Regions from separate parts of the Homo sapiens genome. Here region 1 is linked to region 2. Evidence: fine-mapped expression QTL. Tissue or cell type: lymphoblastoid cells. Region 2 holds a variant in brackets; the other region holds the start of a gene. All regions are shown on one strand. Distances are between the middles of the regions.

Region 1 (8,093 bases), 350 kb before region 2:
CACTCCAGCCTGGGTGATGGAGCAAGAATGTCTAAAAAAAAAAAAAAAAGAAAAGAAAAGAAAAAAGAGATCTTTAAGTCTTGCTAAATGGGTGTGCTTGCATTGCTCAGGCAGAAATGTAATTTAACAAATGACAGTAATAATAAATTGCATTATAATTACATCATAATTAACATATGACTTATGAGAAAAGAATGCCTTTTTCTTTTTTTGAGACAGGGTCTCACTCTGTCACGCAGGCTAGAGTGCAGTGGTGTGATCACAGTTTACTGCAGCCTCGCCTCCTGAGCTCAGGTGATCCTCTTCCAAGTAGCTGGGAACACAGGAGCTTGCCACCACACCTAGCTAATTTTTAGGTTTTTTTTGTAGAGACAGGGTCTCCTGATATTGCCCAGACTGGTCTCGAATTTCCGAGTTCAACCAATCCTCCCACCTCAGCCTCCCAAAATGCTGAGATTACCGGTGTGGGCTACGGTACCCAGCCACCTATGTTATTCTGGAGGACGTACTTATCATAACATGTATGACATACTAAATTATATTATATGAAAAAACTTAAGTCATAGTCTCTGCCTTCAAGCACTTAATGTTTTAGTTATGGAGACTGTTATGGTTAATTTTAGGTGTCAACTTGACCAGATTAAGAAATACCTAGAGGGCTTGTAATCCCAGCACTTTGGGAGGCCGAGGCGGGAGGATCACCTAAAGTCGGGAGTTTGAGACCAGCCTGACCAACATGGAGAAACCCCATCTCTACTACAAATACAAAATTAGCCGCGCATGGTGGCACATGCCTGTAATCCCAGCTACTCGGGAAGCTAAGGCAGGAAAATCGCTTGAACCCGGGAGGCGGAGGTTGTGGTGAGCCAAGATTGCACTATTGCACTCCAGCCTGGGCAACAAGAGGAAACTCCATCTCAAAAAAAGAAAAAGAAAAAAAAAAGAAAAAGAAAAAGAAATACCTAGATAACTTGTAAAGCATTGCTTCTGGGTGCCTTTGAGGGTATTTCCAAAGGAGACTGGCATGTGAGTCAGTGGACTGAGTGGGGCAGATCTGCTCTCAATGTGAGCGGGCACCATCCAATTAACCAAGGACCCAGAACAAAAAAGGTGAGAAAAAATATTTCTTCCTTCTGGAGCTGAGACACTCTTCTCAGACTTCTGCTCCCAGACATCAGAACTCCAGGCCCTCCACCTTGAGACTTGAAGATTTCACAACTTGGACTGAGCCAGCTACCAGCATTCCAGGGTCTCCTGCTTGCAGATGGCCTGTCATGGGTCTTTTCAGTCTCCATAATTTCCTGAGCCAATTCCCTAATAAATCTCCTCATAGATCTGTATCTATATCTATCTGTTATCTATCCTATTGGTTCTGTCTCTGGAGAACCCTAACACAGGGACTGAATAAATAAACAGGTAAATGACTTTGATACCTTACAATTATTATTAAATGTAGTGGAGTTTTACAAAGAAACAAAACTTGTACCCACAATTAATAAACATTCACAGAGTATTTTGACTTTTTCTTAAAAAAAAAAACCCTGGAAAATCATCTGCTTTCCAAATTAATGATATCTACGACAATCTAAATGGAATGTAAATCAATACACTTATGAGGTTTTGTTTTGTTTTTGTAAAAAGGCCTTGCTCTGTCGCCCAGGCTGGAGTGCAGTAGTGCAATCAGGGCTCACTTCAAGCTTGACCTTCCAGGCCCAAGTGATCCTCCCACCTCAGCCTTTCAAGTAGCTGAGACTACAGGCATGTGCCACCATGCCAGGCTAATTTTTTTCATTTTTGTAGAGATGAGGATTCTCCTTATGCTGCCCAGACTGGTCCGGAACTCCTGGGCTCAAGTGATCCTCTTGCCTCTGATTCCCAAAGTGCTGGCATTACAGGCATGAGCCACCACGCCCAGTGTGTGTGTGTGTGTGTGTGTGTGTGTTTGTGTGTGTGTCTCCGTGTGCGCTCGGGTGATCCTCCCGCCTCGGCCTCCCAAAGCGCTGGGATTACAGGCATGAGACACTGCGCCCGGCCAATACACTCATGATTTTAATTATAATATTTATGCCAATGAAAACACTAGCAAAAAGGTAAAACAGCTGCCAATTTAATGTGACCACTTAGTCTAAACAGGCTAGTAGAAATGAAGAACTTTTAACCTGCAAATGCAACAAAAAGCCAGAAATGAATGGGAAGACATTATGATCTCCAGAAAAGTTTGGCTAAATTTTCCCCAGCCCATTGTCTTAGCGGGGTAGGGAATTGCAGACAGCCCTTAAATACTGTCATTTTTGGTTGAGAACTCATGTGGAAAGTCCTCAAAGCCAAATTCCAACTCCTGTTTTACTGTTTTTTACCCTCGAGCTTGCTGAGTTGTCTTGGCTCTCCTGGAAAATACATGGCTCAAAAAATAAAATAGAAGTTTTAGCGGTGTGAATCTAGTAGTCGACTACAGGGGGTATTAAAAATAAACACTCCATCCCGGTTAACACGTGAAACCGCGTCGCTACTAAAAATACAAAAAAAATTAGCCGGGCGTGGTGGCGGGTGCCTGTAGTCCCAGCTACTTGGGAGGCTGAGGCAGGAGAATGGCATGAACCCGGGAGGCGGAGCTTGCAGTGAGCCGAGATCATGCCACTGCACTCAAGCCTGGGCGACAGTGCGAGACTCCGTCTCAAAATAAATAAATAAATTAATTAATTAATTAAAAAATTAAAACCACCACCAGAGCAAAAACTTACAGCGCTTACAATACCTTCCACGTGCTGTTTTATTTTACATAAAACCATGACGATTAAAAAGCTGGCCTCTCAGCTTTCCGGGTATTGGTTTGTTTTCCCCCTAAACTGTCGTTTTTATAGGCACTTGCACTGTCTTCTTAGCAGAATTGCCAATGGCCTTCCTCGAGTCCTACGTTTAGCGATTGGCAAGAATCATGCACTGACAGAGCTCGACTCCGGAGGGCACAAGGAAGTAGACAACAAAGCAGGAAGAAGCAGGAGGCGCACAGATGGGCGGGATCTGCACTGGAGGCGGTGCGACCTTGCGGGGCGGTGCAAGCTGGCGGAACCCGCGTGAGAGAGGTTGGTGTTGCGAAGGGAACTAGTCCGGTGCAGGACGTGGGGCTTTTGCAGCTCAGCTGGTTCCGGCTGGGGAAGATGGCGGTGGCTGGGGCGGTGTCCGGGGAGCCGCTGGTGCACTGGTGCACCCAGCAGTTGCGGAAGACTTTCGGCCTGGATGTCAGCGAGGAGATCATTCAGTGAGAACAGTTCGGGTCCAAGCGGGGAAGGAGCTCTGGGATGTGCACTGCCTGAGCGAACCGGGAAGCGGGGAGGACTGAAAAGTTAAGAGAGAAATGTGATAAAGGGGCTGCAGTCTGTAGTCTGTAGGCGTCGAATTTTGGCCTCCACCTTTGTAGTTTAGTTTCTGGAATAGGGTGTCCGGCTCCACAGTCTGCCGGTCGGGCTTTTTTCCTGGGAAGACGCCCAATCTGTAATAATTAGAAATGCAAGGCTGTCCCAGGAGCCAGTTTCCTTTCTAGAGAGAAGGGGCAGGTCAAACTGTATTTCCTAACTTTGAACCCCTTACTCTTTTATTTATTTATTATTATTGTTGTTATTATTGAGACGGAGTCTCTGTCGCCCAGGCTGGCGTGCGGTGGCGCGATCTTGGCTCACTGCAACCTCCGCCTTCCGGGTTCAGGTGATTCACCTGCCTGAGCCTCCCAAGTAGCTGGGATTACAGGCACGCACCACCACACCCGGCTAATTTTTAAAAATTTTTAGTAGAGTCAGTGTTTCACCATGTTGGCCAGGCTAGTCTCCAGCTCCTGATCTCAAGTGATCCGCCCGCCTCGACCTCCCAAAGTGCTGGGATTACAGGCATGAGCCACCGCACCCAGATATACTCTGAACATTTTAGTCGGCCCAATCTGAGTTGTGTCAGTAGAGCCAACAGGGTCAGCTGTGTCAATAGGACCTAGAATTTAAGTGGAAGCAGCGTGGTAGAGTACAAATAGCTTCTGACTCTGGAGTCTCAGGTTCTATATTCTGTTGTCGTTTACCTGTTTTAGAACCCAGGACAACTTAATTTTTCTCTCTGTACCCTGGTTTCTTCATTTATAAGATTAATCATTAGTAGAGCTTATCATGCTTTATGACTCCTATGAAATGGAGATGGTGTACATGACTTAATATCTACTTTCAACTGATTGAAGAACATTTGTTGCGCTGCTGTTACACGCCAGGTGCTGGGGTAACAAAGACAAGACAGTTGGGTTCCCCTTCGTTGATGAGTGCTGAGGTTGGGGAAATGAAGGGGCTTGTTGGAGCACAAAATAAAGGATTCTCATTAAGATTTGAAAAACTCGGAAGGTTTATTGGAAAGGATAACTTTCACCCGAGAACTAAGGAATAGACAGAGGTGGCGGTCCAAAGTGTTCAGGCAGGGGAGAAAACTACAAAAATGGGACTTGATCGAAGAACTGAAAGTGTTCCTTCATTTGATTCCTTGGTCACTGATGTTGAAACCTAAATTGCTGTTCTAGGGCTTTTGTAGGAAGTAAGATGAGTTTCTGAGTTTCGGAGAAAATAGACTTTTGGCAAGGAGACAGTTCAAGTAGGTTATTTTAATGGATTTTTTTGAGGCCCTAGGAGATGGCTCAAGCCCTTATTCCCAGCACTTTGGGAGGTAGAGGTGGGAGGATTGCTTGAGACTGGGAGTTGGAGACCACCCTGGGCAACATAGTGAGACCCTGTCTCTACAGAAATAAAAAAAGTAAACAACAAGATAAAGGATTTTTTTTAACACTAGAATAGACAACAAAACAAAACAGCGAAATCTTATGGTTTGGCTTTACCCTTGCTTGAACGCAGTCAGATTAAGTATTTAGTAGTTTTCAAACATTTTTTAAAGCAGTGGAATGCTATCAAATGAAATAATGAAACTTTGCAATATATAAAACAGAAAAGTGTTTTTTACGAATATAAGTTCAAAATTTTCACTTTTTTTTTTTTTTTTTTTTGAGACAGATTCTGTTGCCCAGGCTGGAGTGCAGTGGTGCGATCTCAGCTCGCTGCAACCTCCGCCTCCCACGTTCAAGCGATTCTCTTTCCTCAGCCCGAGCAGCTGGGATTACAGGCGCGCACCACCATGCCTGGCTAATTTTTGTATTCTTACTAGAGATGGGGTTTCACCATGTTGACCAGGGTGGTCTCGAACTCCTGACCTCAGATGATCCAACCGCCTCAGCCTCCCAAAGTGCTGGGATTACAGGCATGAGCCACCACGCCTGGCCCAATTTTCACATATTTATTGTAAATATGTGTAATATATTAAATATCAAATATATTAAATATTAAATATATCAAATATTATATTAAATATATTAAATATTAAATATATCAAATATTATATTAAATATATTAAATATGTGTATTATATTAAATACAGTATTAAAAAAAAAAGATTGAGGTGGCCAGGCGCAGTGGTTCATGTGTGTAATCTAAGCACTTTGGGAGGCCGAGGCAGATGGATCATTTGAGGTCAGGAATTTCAGACCAGCCTGGCCAACATGGCGAAACCCCCACTCTACTAAAAATACAAAACTTAGTCGGGTGTGGTGGAGCGTGCAGGTCATCTCAGTTACTCGGAAGGCTGAGGCAGGAGAATCCCTTGAACCGCGGGGCAGAGGTTGCAGTGAGCTGATACCGCACCACTGCACTCCATCCTGGGTGACAGAGTGAGACCTCGTCTCAAAAAAAAAAAGGAAAAAAGAAAGATTGAGGCTATTTTTGATAAATTAACAATTTGAAATAGGGTAAGAATGATAGATGTAGTCTTCTCAGTCTAGAATCCAGTTGTATTTTGTTTGGATTACACAGTATCAAGAAAATGCGTTCTCAGGCCAGGCGTGGTGGCTCACGCCTGTAATCCTAGCACTTTAGGAGGCCAAGGCAGGTGGACCACCTGAGGTCAGGAGTTCGAGACCAGCCTGGCCAACATGGTGAAACCCCGTCTCTACTAAAAATACAAAAAAAAATTAGCCAGGTATGGTGACGGGCACCTGTAATCCCAGCTACTCGGGAGGCTGAGGCAGGAGAATCGCTTGAACCCAGGAGGCAGAGGTTGCAGTGAGCCAATATCTCACCACTGCACTCCAGCCTGGGCGACAGAGCGAGACTCCGTCTCAAAAAAAAAAAAAAATTATATTCCGCCTGGGAAGGAGGTCAGTGCCCGTCGGCATGTATTACGCTAAGATACTATTTGAAGCATTTGTTAGGTATTCACTAGTATTCCACAACAGGCTATTATGCCATGATGAAAGCATTTGCTGTGCCTTGCCTGGCATTTAATTGAGAATTACCCAGGTGTATGTACTACAGTAATGTACTAACTTGAACAATTTTATATGAGTGGACTGAATTTTTGAAATAGCACAGAGCTATTAACTTTTTTTTTTTTCTTTTTTGAGACGGAGTCTCACTCTGTCGCCCAGGCTGGAGTGCAGTGGCAGGATCTCGGCTCACTGCAACCTCCACCTCCCAGGTTCAAGCAATTCTCCTGCCTCAGCCTCCCCAGTAGCTTGGACTACAGGCGCGTGACACCATGCCCAGCTAATTTTTGTATTTTTAGTGGAGATGGGATTCCACCAGGTTGGCCAGGATGGTCTCGGTCTCCTGACCTCGTGGTCTGCCCGCCTCAGCCTCCCAAAGTGCTGGGATTACAGGTGTGAGCCACTGCACCCGGCCTTAACTTTCTAATTAGTGATACATTTATAAGACATAAATAGCTATCCACAGAGTTAACAAAATAAACTTTGGTCCACAATCTGGATGAGTTCATATTATTTTGATAAGATTTGGTATATAACATATTTGGATGAATGTTGTTCTTTATTATACCTTGTTAAGTAGTTAAAATGACATTTATTCAAATGGTTCTGAAACTCTCTTCCCTGGTTGTTTGAAAAATACTCCAGGGTTGGCCAGGTGCAGTGGCTCAACCTGTAATCCCAGCACTTTGGGAGGCTGAGGTGGGTTGATCACTTGAGGTCAGGAGTTCAAGACCAGCCTGCCCAACATGGCAAAACCTTGTCTCTACTAAAAATTCAAAAAATTAGCCGGGCGCAGTGGTGCACGCCTGCAATCCCAGCTACTCAGGAGGCTGAGGCAGGAGAATTTCTTGAACCTAGGAGCCAGAGGTTGCAGTGAGCCAAGATAGCACCACTGCACTCCAGCCTGGGTGACAGAGTGAGACTCTGTCTCAAAAAAAAAAAAAAAAAAAAAAAAGCCAGGTGCAGCGGCTCAGCCTGTAATTCCAGCACTTTGGAAGGCTGAGGCGGGCAAATCACTTGAGGTCAGGACTTCGAGACCAGCCTGGCCAACATAGTGAAACCCCGTCTCTACTAAAAAAAAGCAAAAACAAAACAAAACAAAACAAAAATTAGCCGGGTGTGGTTGTGCACGCCTGTAATCCCAGCTACTCAGGAGGCTGAGGTAGGAGAATCGCTTGAACCTGGGAGATGGAGTTTGCAGTGAGCTGAGATCGCACCACTGCACTCCAGCCTGGGAGACTAAATGAGACTCTGTCTGAAAAAACAAAAAAACCCTCCAGGGTTAAATGATCCCTTGGGATTCCTTACAGTTTTGCAAGTCTTTGATAGCAGTTAATCTTTTGGTGGGGACTGGTAAGTTTGGGGATCAAGATGATTAAAATGTGTAAGTCCTGAAAAACCATTGTCTTTTCTAATCCATAGTAATTAGAAGATGCCTGTTTTTGGGGGGTGTGTGTATGTGTGTGTGTATTTTTAGTAGAGACGGTTTCACCATGTTGGCCAAGCTGGTCTCTAACTCCTGACCTCAGGTGATCCACCCGCCTCAGCCTCCCAAAGTGCTGGGAGCCATCATGCCCCACCGTTTTTGCTTGTTTGAGACAGAGTCTCATTCTGTTGCTCAGGCTGGAATGTAGTGGTGCAATCATGGCTCTGCAGCCTTCACCTCTGAGACTCAAAGGATCCTTCCACCTCAGCCTCCCAAGTAGCTAGGACTACAGGAACATGCCTCCATGCCTGGCTAATTTTAATTTTTCTTCTA
Region 2 (8,102 bases):
TGGGAGATGAGGCATGTTCCTCTGTGCACAGCTCTTACACCACCCATGCAGTTCTGCGAGGCCAAGCACAGAACCACGATACCATGGGACCCAGAGCAGTACTCTGGACCTGTGGGTAAGGTGGGCAGCAGCCCAGCCTCCGGGGAAAGAGAGGAGCGGAAGTTTAGAACCAATAACCCCCAGCTTTCCCTGCTTGAGTAGCTCCACAGCCCAGACTCCCACACTCCAGGCTGTGCATCACCTGAGAACAGAAACTGTGCCTTATCCTCCATCTCAGCACCAAACACAGGCTCAGCAAAGGGCAGGGGCACAAAAAATGTTTGCTGGAAAGAATGACTGGACAAGAGAGGATGCAAAGGTCAGTCAGCGTGCTCCTTCCCCCTTGAGGGCAGCAGACCAGAGCTCAGGGCTCTGGCTCAGCTCATCATGATCAAACATGACCTTGGCACCTTTCTGAACTTGAACTTCCTGTCCATGGGATGGAAATGATCCTTCGCAAACAGCCTTCCCAGGACAGCTTCGAGGATCAGGGCAGGACTACCTTGTAGCAGCCTATGGACTTAGCTCTTTCCTTCTCTCTTATTCCACTTGGTAATGTTAAGTGATTGAGAACAAACTCAATTCACCTCAATTTGCCCTCACATATTCAAGTGGTTGCAGGGTTTTTCTGTTTGATGGTTTTTATTTTTGTTTTCAGCCTATTTCTTTTTCATTTTTTTTTCTTGTGAGATGGAGTCTTGCTCTGTTGCCCAGGCTAGAGTGCAGTGGCATGATCTCGGCTCACTGCAAACTCCACCTCCTGGGTTCAAGCGATTCTCCTGCCTCAGCCTCCCGAGTAGCTGGAATTACAGGTGCCCACCACCACGCCTGGCTAGTTTTTGTATTTTTTAGTAGAGACGGGGTTTCACCATCTTGGCCAGGCTGGTGTCAAACTTCTGACCTCATGATCCACCCACCTCAGCCTCCCAAAGTGCTAGGATTACAGGCGTGAGCCACCACGCCCAGGCGTTTTCGGCCTATTTCTTAACCAGGCTACTATGTGATGGTTTTTATTATTTATCTATTTATTTTTGAGATGGAGTCTCACTCTCACCCAGGATGGAGTGCAGTGGCATGATCTCGGCTCACTGCAACCTCTGCCTCCCAGTTTCAAGCGATTGTCCTGCCTCCGCCTCCCAAGTAGCTGGGACTACAGACATGTGCCACCGCACCTGGCTAATTTTTGTATTTTTAGTAGAGATGGGGTTTCACCATGTTGGCCAGGCTGGTCTTGAACTCTGACCTCAGGTGATCCGTCCACCTCGGCCTCCCTAAGTGCTGGGATTACAGGGGTGAGCCACCACACCTAGCCATGGTGAAGCCTTTCTAACTCTGGTTTCCATAGCTGTAAAATTAGATGATTGATGGGCATGGTGGCTCACACCTATAATCCCAGCATTTTGGTAGGTTGAGAAGGACAGATTGCTTGAGCTCAGGAGTTCAAGACCAGCTTGGGCAATATGGAGAAACCCCAGCTCCACAAAATATACAAAAACTAGCCAGGTGTGGTGGTGCACGCCTGTAGACCCAGCTACTTGGGAGGCTGAGGTTACAGTGGGCTGAGATCGGGTCACTGCACTCCAGCCTGGGCAGCAGGGTGAGATTCTGTCTGAAAAAAAAAGATAAGTAAAACTTTCCTTTTTTTTTTTTCTTTGAGACTGAGTCTTGCTCTGTTGCCCAGGCTGGAGTGCAGTGGCATGGTCTCAGCTCACTGCAACCTCCGCCTCCCAGGTTCAAGTGATTCTCCTGCCTCAGCCTCCCTAGTATCTGGGATTACAGGTACATGCTACCACACCTGGCTAATTTTTGTATTTTTAGTATAGACAGGGTTTCACCATGTTGGCCAGGCTGGTCTCGAACTCCTGACCTCCAGCAATCCGCCCGCCTTGGCCTCCCAAAGGGCTGGTATTACAGGCGTGAGCCACCACGCCTGGCCAACACCTTTCTTATGTATGTCAGCAGGCTTTTTATGGCAATCATGGGCGATAGCAAACGTATGTATTGTAAACTCTGAAGCAGTGTATGAATACAACTACTGTCAGAACTTTGAAGCCCTAAATGGCTTGATAAAAAGGTTAGAAGTCCACCTATAATCCCAGCACTTTGGGAGGCTGAGGCAGGTGGATCTGAGGTCAGGAGTTCAAGACTAGCCCAGCCAAGATGGCGAAACCCTGTCTCTACTGAAAATACAAAAATCAGCCAGGCATGGTGGCACACACCTATAATCCTAGCTACTCAAGCTCACTGCAACCTCTGCCTCCCAGTTTCAAGCGATTCTCCTACCTCCGCCTCCCAAGTAGCTGGGACTACAGACATGTGCCACCACACCCAGCTGAGGTGGAGGTTGCAGTGAGCTGAGATGATGCCCTGCACTCCAGCCTGGGGAACACAGTGAGATTGTCTCAAAAAAAAAAAAAAAAAAAAAAAGCTACAGTTAGATCCAGTGCCAAAAACTACTAGCTCCAGGGTTTTGTGTGTGTTCTCCTAGATTCCTGGGCCCCACCCTGTCCTTCTTTCACCTTCCTCCCAGGTAGAACATGGGGTTAAAAATCTTTCAATGACTACTGATCCATTGAAAAAACAGTCAAGGAGTACGTCAATTGGAATCGACTCAATTTCACTGCTTCTTAAGGATGAAGGAAATATTATCTTTTTAACATAACTGCAGGCCAAGCGTGGTGGTTCACGCTTGTAATCCCAGCACTTTGGGAGGCTGACGCAGGCAGATCACTTGAGTCCAGGAGTTCGAGACCAGCCTGACCAACATGGCGAACCCCATCTCTACTAAAAATATAAAAAGTAGCCAGGTGTGGTGGTGGGCGCCTGTAATCCCAGCTACTTGGGAAGCTGAGGCAGGGAGAATCGCTTGAACCTGGGAGGTGGAGGTTGCAGTGAGCCAAGATTGCACCACTGTACTCCAGCCTGGGCGACAGAGCGAGACTCCATCTCAAAAAAAAAAAAAAAAAAGGAAAAAAAAAAGATAAGCATAGAAAACATTTAGGGAGTACCTACTATGTGTTAGGCACGTTATTGTGTCATCATTAAAGCTCATAACCTTGTGAGGGAAGGAAACAGAGTCACAAACACACACTCCTTGGCCGGGCGTGGTGGCTCACGCCTGTAATCCCAGCACTTTGGGGGGCCAAGGCGGGCGGATCATGAGGTCAGGAGATGGAGACCATCCTGGCTAACATGGTGAAACCCCATCTCTACTAAAAAACACAAAAAATTAGCTGGGCTTGGTGGCAGGCACCTGTAGTCCCAGCTACTTGGGAGGCTGAGGCAGGAGAATGATGTGAACCTGGAAGGCGGAGCT[T/G]GCAGTGAGCAGAGATCGCGCCACCGCACTCCAGCCTGGGCGACAGAGCAAGACTCTGTCTCAAAAAAAAAAAACAGAAACACACACTCCGAGGGAAGGCACAGGCTTTTCTGGGATGAGACAGCCATTCCTGTCTCTTAGGCTCCTCCTACTAAGCTGCTGCATATTCTCTACTACAGGCAGAAATGGAGATACACCATCTTTGTTCTTGCATAAGCTGATAGCCAGATGAATCCTGCACGTCCAACAACCCTAATCACTGGGTTAAAGGCCAGAGACTACACAATGCTAGGCTGAGGCTAGATGGGTCACTGAGGGCTTCTCTTTGTCCTTTAATCAGGGAGTAAGACCCAGTGTCCCAGGGAAAGATGGGGTCATATTTAGATCAAGACAGAAGACAAGAAAGTATGGCATGCCAAGAAGAGGTCTGCAGCCAGCAGCCCTGAGCTGTAACCATGGCTCTAGCACTGCAGGGAGAGGCTTCCAAGCCTGTGGGGTGAGGTGTCTGCTGCCTGCCTGCCCTGTGGGGTGCTGGACTGACTGGAAGACAGAGACACCAGTGGAGCATGCACTGGTCACTGTCTCCATAACAAAAAAGGGCTTGCTTTAGGGCAAACTACTCACCTCTGTGCTTCACCTTCTCCATCTGTGAATGGGAGAGCTGGGTGGACTCAATCCTCAATGCCAATGTCTGACCCTGGTTTCCTGGGGTCATTTGAAGGGCCTCTCAAAAGAACAGATTTAAGGGGATGGCTGGAAGGTCATGAAGATAATGGCCAAGGGCACCTGACCTCCCTCCAAACTCTTGCAGAGGCTCCCGCTCCCTCACCCCAACCAGAGGCCAGGGAACTAGGGGATGATGGTCAAGGAGGTGGGGGACGGGGTATGGAATGGACCAGGAGCACATGCCCCTCTCCTGGCTGCCCTGGAAAGTTGCCAGGGCAGTGATCCCATTCAGCCTTGCTCCCCTTGCTCCTGGAGCCCCTCTTCTGCCTGAGAGAAGGTGTTGGGGTGGGGCCTGCACTCCTGCAGGGCCACCTGGGTGGAGGCTGGCACAGAGGATGTGAGGCAGGGCAGGCCTGCAGCTTGAGTGGGGCGGCTCTGCTCCCTCCTCCTGATACCTTTGCAGGAGGCTTTATCCTCCCATTTTCCACCTTTCCCTTTCTCAGTCCCCTTCCGGCACTTGCCCTACTTCCCTCCTCTGACGGACTTAGCCTGGTTTCTCAGGGATATTTGCCCTCTGACAAAGAACTCAAGATCCAAAGGCTTTATTCCAGACCTCAGGAAATGGAGCTCTGCGGGGCACGTGTGGGCAGGGCAGGGTGGGGCGGAACGGTGGGCAGGAGGGAGGCCTGGATCACCCCCCAACCCCCGCTCCCACCCCTGTCCCAGAACTCTGGACCCCATGCGGCCTGCACTCTTACCTTGTACTGATCCCCAGGGACGCATCATGTCAGGCCACACAGCCTGGAACCTAGGAACCTGCCTGGGAAAGCTCCAAGATAAGTCACATCCCTTAAAAACGCTGGCCAGGGCTGGGCATGGTGGCTCATGCCTGTAATCCCAACACTTTGGGAGGCCGAGGCAAGAGGATCACTTGAGCCCAGGAGTTCGAGACCAGCCTGGCCAACATGATGAAACCCCCGGGTCTCTACAAAAAATACAAAAATTAACCAGGCATGGTGGTGTGTGCCTGTGGTCCCAGCTACTACTCTGGAGGCTAAGGTGGGAGGTTTAACTGAGCCCAGAAGGCAGAGGTTGCAGTGAACCATGATCACACCACCGTACTCCAGCGTGGGTAACAGAGAGACCCTGTCTCCAAAAAAAAAAAAAAGAAAAAGAAAAATGCTGGCTAGGCAGCAGCACCCAACGATGGTTCAGTCAGGGTGACAAGCACCATCTCTGTTGCGAGAAGAGCTGGCTCTGGCCAGGGCAGGGGGGCATCAGGGGCTTCCCAGTGGCTCACAAGCATCTGTTTAGTACTGGCCTCACTTGTGTGCTTGCAGGGAGGGGATTACATGGAAAGACAGCCTCTCCTGCCAACGAGGGGATTTCATCGCTGCTGGGAAGGGACCTCACACCAAAAGAACCCTGGTGGAGGCTGGGCATGGTGGCTCACGCCTGTAATCCCAGCACTTTGGGAGGCCAAGGCAGGCGGATCGTGAGGCCAGGAGTTCAAGACCAGCCTAGCCAACATGGTGAAACCCCATCTCTACTAAAAATACAAAAATTAGCCCAGTGTGCTGGTGCATGCCTGTAATCCCAGCTACTTGGAAGGCTGAGGCAGGAGCATGGCTTGAACCCAGGAGGCAGAGGTTGCAGTGAGCCGAAATCAGGCCACTGCACTCCAGCCTGGGCGACAGTGAGACTCATCTGTGGGTGGGAGAAGTGGGGGAAAGAATGCTGGTGGTTCCCAGATGCCTAACTCCCTTTCAGAAGGGAAGGAACACTTTCAACTGTGATCAGGACTCAACACCTCTGGGGATAACGAGCTGCTTTCTGGAAAGAGAGCAGGACAGGGAATCAGGACACAGGTGCTTCTGACCCCAGCCAGGAAGCCCTGATCTACTGAAGGCTCCTTAACCCAAGTTCAGTCTAAACATGACTGCTCACTAAGGCCTTTCTGCAGAGGCCCTACACTGAGAAAAGCCCCCAGTCCAGCTGAGAGTGCCCTCTGGAATGGCTGCAGGGCTCCTCCTTCCCCGGCTCCTCCTCCACTCAGACCCAGGCCTGGGCCCTGCTCGCTAAAGCGTGAAGGAGGCCCCCCAGGGAAGCCGCAGGCGCAGGGGCTTTAAATTATAGAGCAGCTTTCTTAGCCCCTCTCAGAAAGGCCCAGGCACCTTCGCTAAATAATTCACGACCTCAGGAAGACCCACTGGTTCTTGACACAGATGAAGTAGGTCAGCCCTCGGCTTGGCCCTGGGTGGGGGCCATAGGACACAGAGCAGCTTTCCCACCAGCACAGGCAGGGGCTGAAGGCTGGGCGGCCTTGCCAGCTGGTCCGATACTGCAGCGAGGCAAGGGGCACAGCGCGGGAGACGAGTAACCCCGGACTCCTCTGGGCACGAACACAGCCACCCTCTGAGGTCCAGGTAACTCGCCCACAGACACCCAGGGTTACCTGCAGGGCCTGGTCCTGGCCAGGCTCCTCCTCCTCCTCCCTCAGAGCACCTGGGTCGCCAGCTGACGCATTCACCAGCACTGACATCTTAGACCCAAGCCGACCTGTGCAGGACTGGGATTCAGGAGACGGGGTAAGGCGGGGAGCGGTGACCTGAGGTGCAAGTGAGGAAGTGACCAGAGCCAGCCACAGCCACTTTAGTTTTGCTTAGAGCAAGGCTGGAGCAACACCTATTGGGAGGGGGGTTCCGGGGCCTCTGCTGTCCTCCCTTTCCAGGCACGGCTTTGGGTCTGAGGTGCGGTGCGGTGCAGAGCAGCTCTCCCAGGAGTGGATGAAAAAACAAACAGTTAAACCCTGAGTTCAGCACACCAGCCCTCCAGTAAGAGTCTGAAAGGATTTCAAGCAACCTCTTCACAGACAAGGAACCCGAGACCCCAAGTCACAAAAGGTAAGACTGAGGGTCATGACGGGCATCCTGACACCTGGCCCAGGCCAGCCTGGGCTCTTGGCACTGCACAGCTTCCCTGAGCCTCACACCCATTTGCTCCCGCTCCAGGAATCAGAGTTGCAGCCCATAGACTACAGGGTGGATGAGGTTAACCCCTTCTGGGCAAGATTCCAGGTCCTAGCCTTCCCTCCAGCACAGCCTCACAAGAGGCACGCCAAGGACAGACACCACCTGGCAGAGCCCAACAGCCCAAACCTCAGTCCTCTTTTACCAGAGCGAGACTCAAAAAGACCACAGGCCGTAAATGGTTAAGCCGAGTATATCACCGCCTTCCCCCAGGAAGGTCCCACCTGGGGGCCTGCTCTTGGTGTAGGGAGTCTCTCCCTACCCTGACAGCCTGGAAACTGAGGAAGTAAAGCCACAACTGCCAGGCCCTTAGGCAAGTCACTTACCCTGGACTTTGTTTCCCCAGCTTACAAACCAGGGAGGCAGGAGAGGCTAAGTGAGCTCCAAGGTCCTCCCCCACCACCTTTACAGTCACAAGCCAGCTGCCAGCGGGCCAGGCCCACTTCACTTCCTTCCCCCGACTCCACATCTCTCTGGCTCTGCCTTCCCAATGGCAGTCTGCGTCCACGGAAGGGGGAAGCAAAGGCCGAGAGCAGTCATTTTGGTTTTGTTTTATTTTGCATTTCATATATTATCCAGTTTCACATTCTCACAGGATCAGCAATGACAACAGCCGCCTCATCTCCCAAGTCTGAAATGGCCAGACGGTCACAGCTGCGGCTGACAGTAAAGCACTGATATGCTCAAAACAAAAAACATTGCACAGTGTTTCCTTCATTTCATTTTCTTAAACAAATGCCAGACACAAAGGCGTACTGCTGAAGAATGGAAACCCTTTTCTTCTTCATGCCTCAAACTAAACATTAAACTTATCTGACAGGGCGAACGAGGTCGCTTTAATAATTAATGGTACGCACATGAAAAATCCTTTATGATGCATAAATATTTTGTTACACAGGGTACAAAAATACTTCTCACGTTTTGGTTGGTTTCGAGGTTTGGAAAGAATGAGGAGCAGCGGCGGGCGGGGTGCGCTGTGGAGAGGTGAACAGAACGGGCAGAGAGGGCTTTCTTACGACTGTTGGCCCATCCGAGAAGGCAGGAGCGGAGGA

Evidence for each region. PIP is the estimated chance that this variant, and not a neighbour inherited with it, causes the effect.
Region 1: it holds the start of TRIP4, and the variant in region 2 is fine-mapped to the expression of TRIP4 in lymphoblastoid cells (GTEx, PIP above 0.99).

What each region holds. Positions count from the first base shown.
Region 1 is chr15:64,384,706-64,392,798 of GRCh38, forward strand. TRIP4 (thyroid hormone receptor interactor 4) reads left to right here and starts at 3,131. Exons shown (of 13, transcript NM_016213.5): 1 at 3,131-3,259. The coding sequence starts at 3,159. It also overlaps a transcript of PCLAF not described here. RefSeq lists enhancers at 2,846-3,346, 2,928-3,417, 3,347-3,847.
Region 2 is chr15:64,732,305-64,740,406 of GRCh38, forward strand. It overlaps RBPMS2 (RNA binding protein, mRNA processing factor 2), which reads right to left. Exons shown (of 8, transcript NM_194272.3): 8 at 7,587-8,102. Among named protein-coding and RNA genes, the nearest start is that of MIR1272, 26 kb to the right of the region's middle. RefSeq lists enhancers at 1-284, 285-933, 3,854-4,833. The variant T/G (reference allele first, on the strand shown) is at 3,356.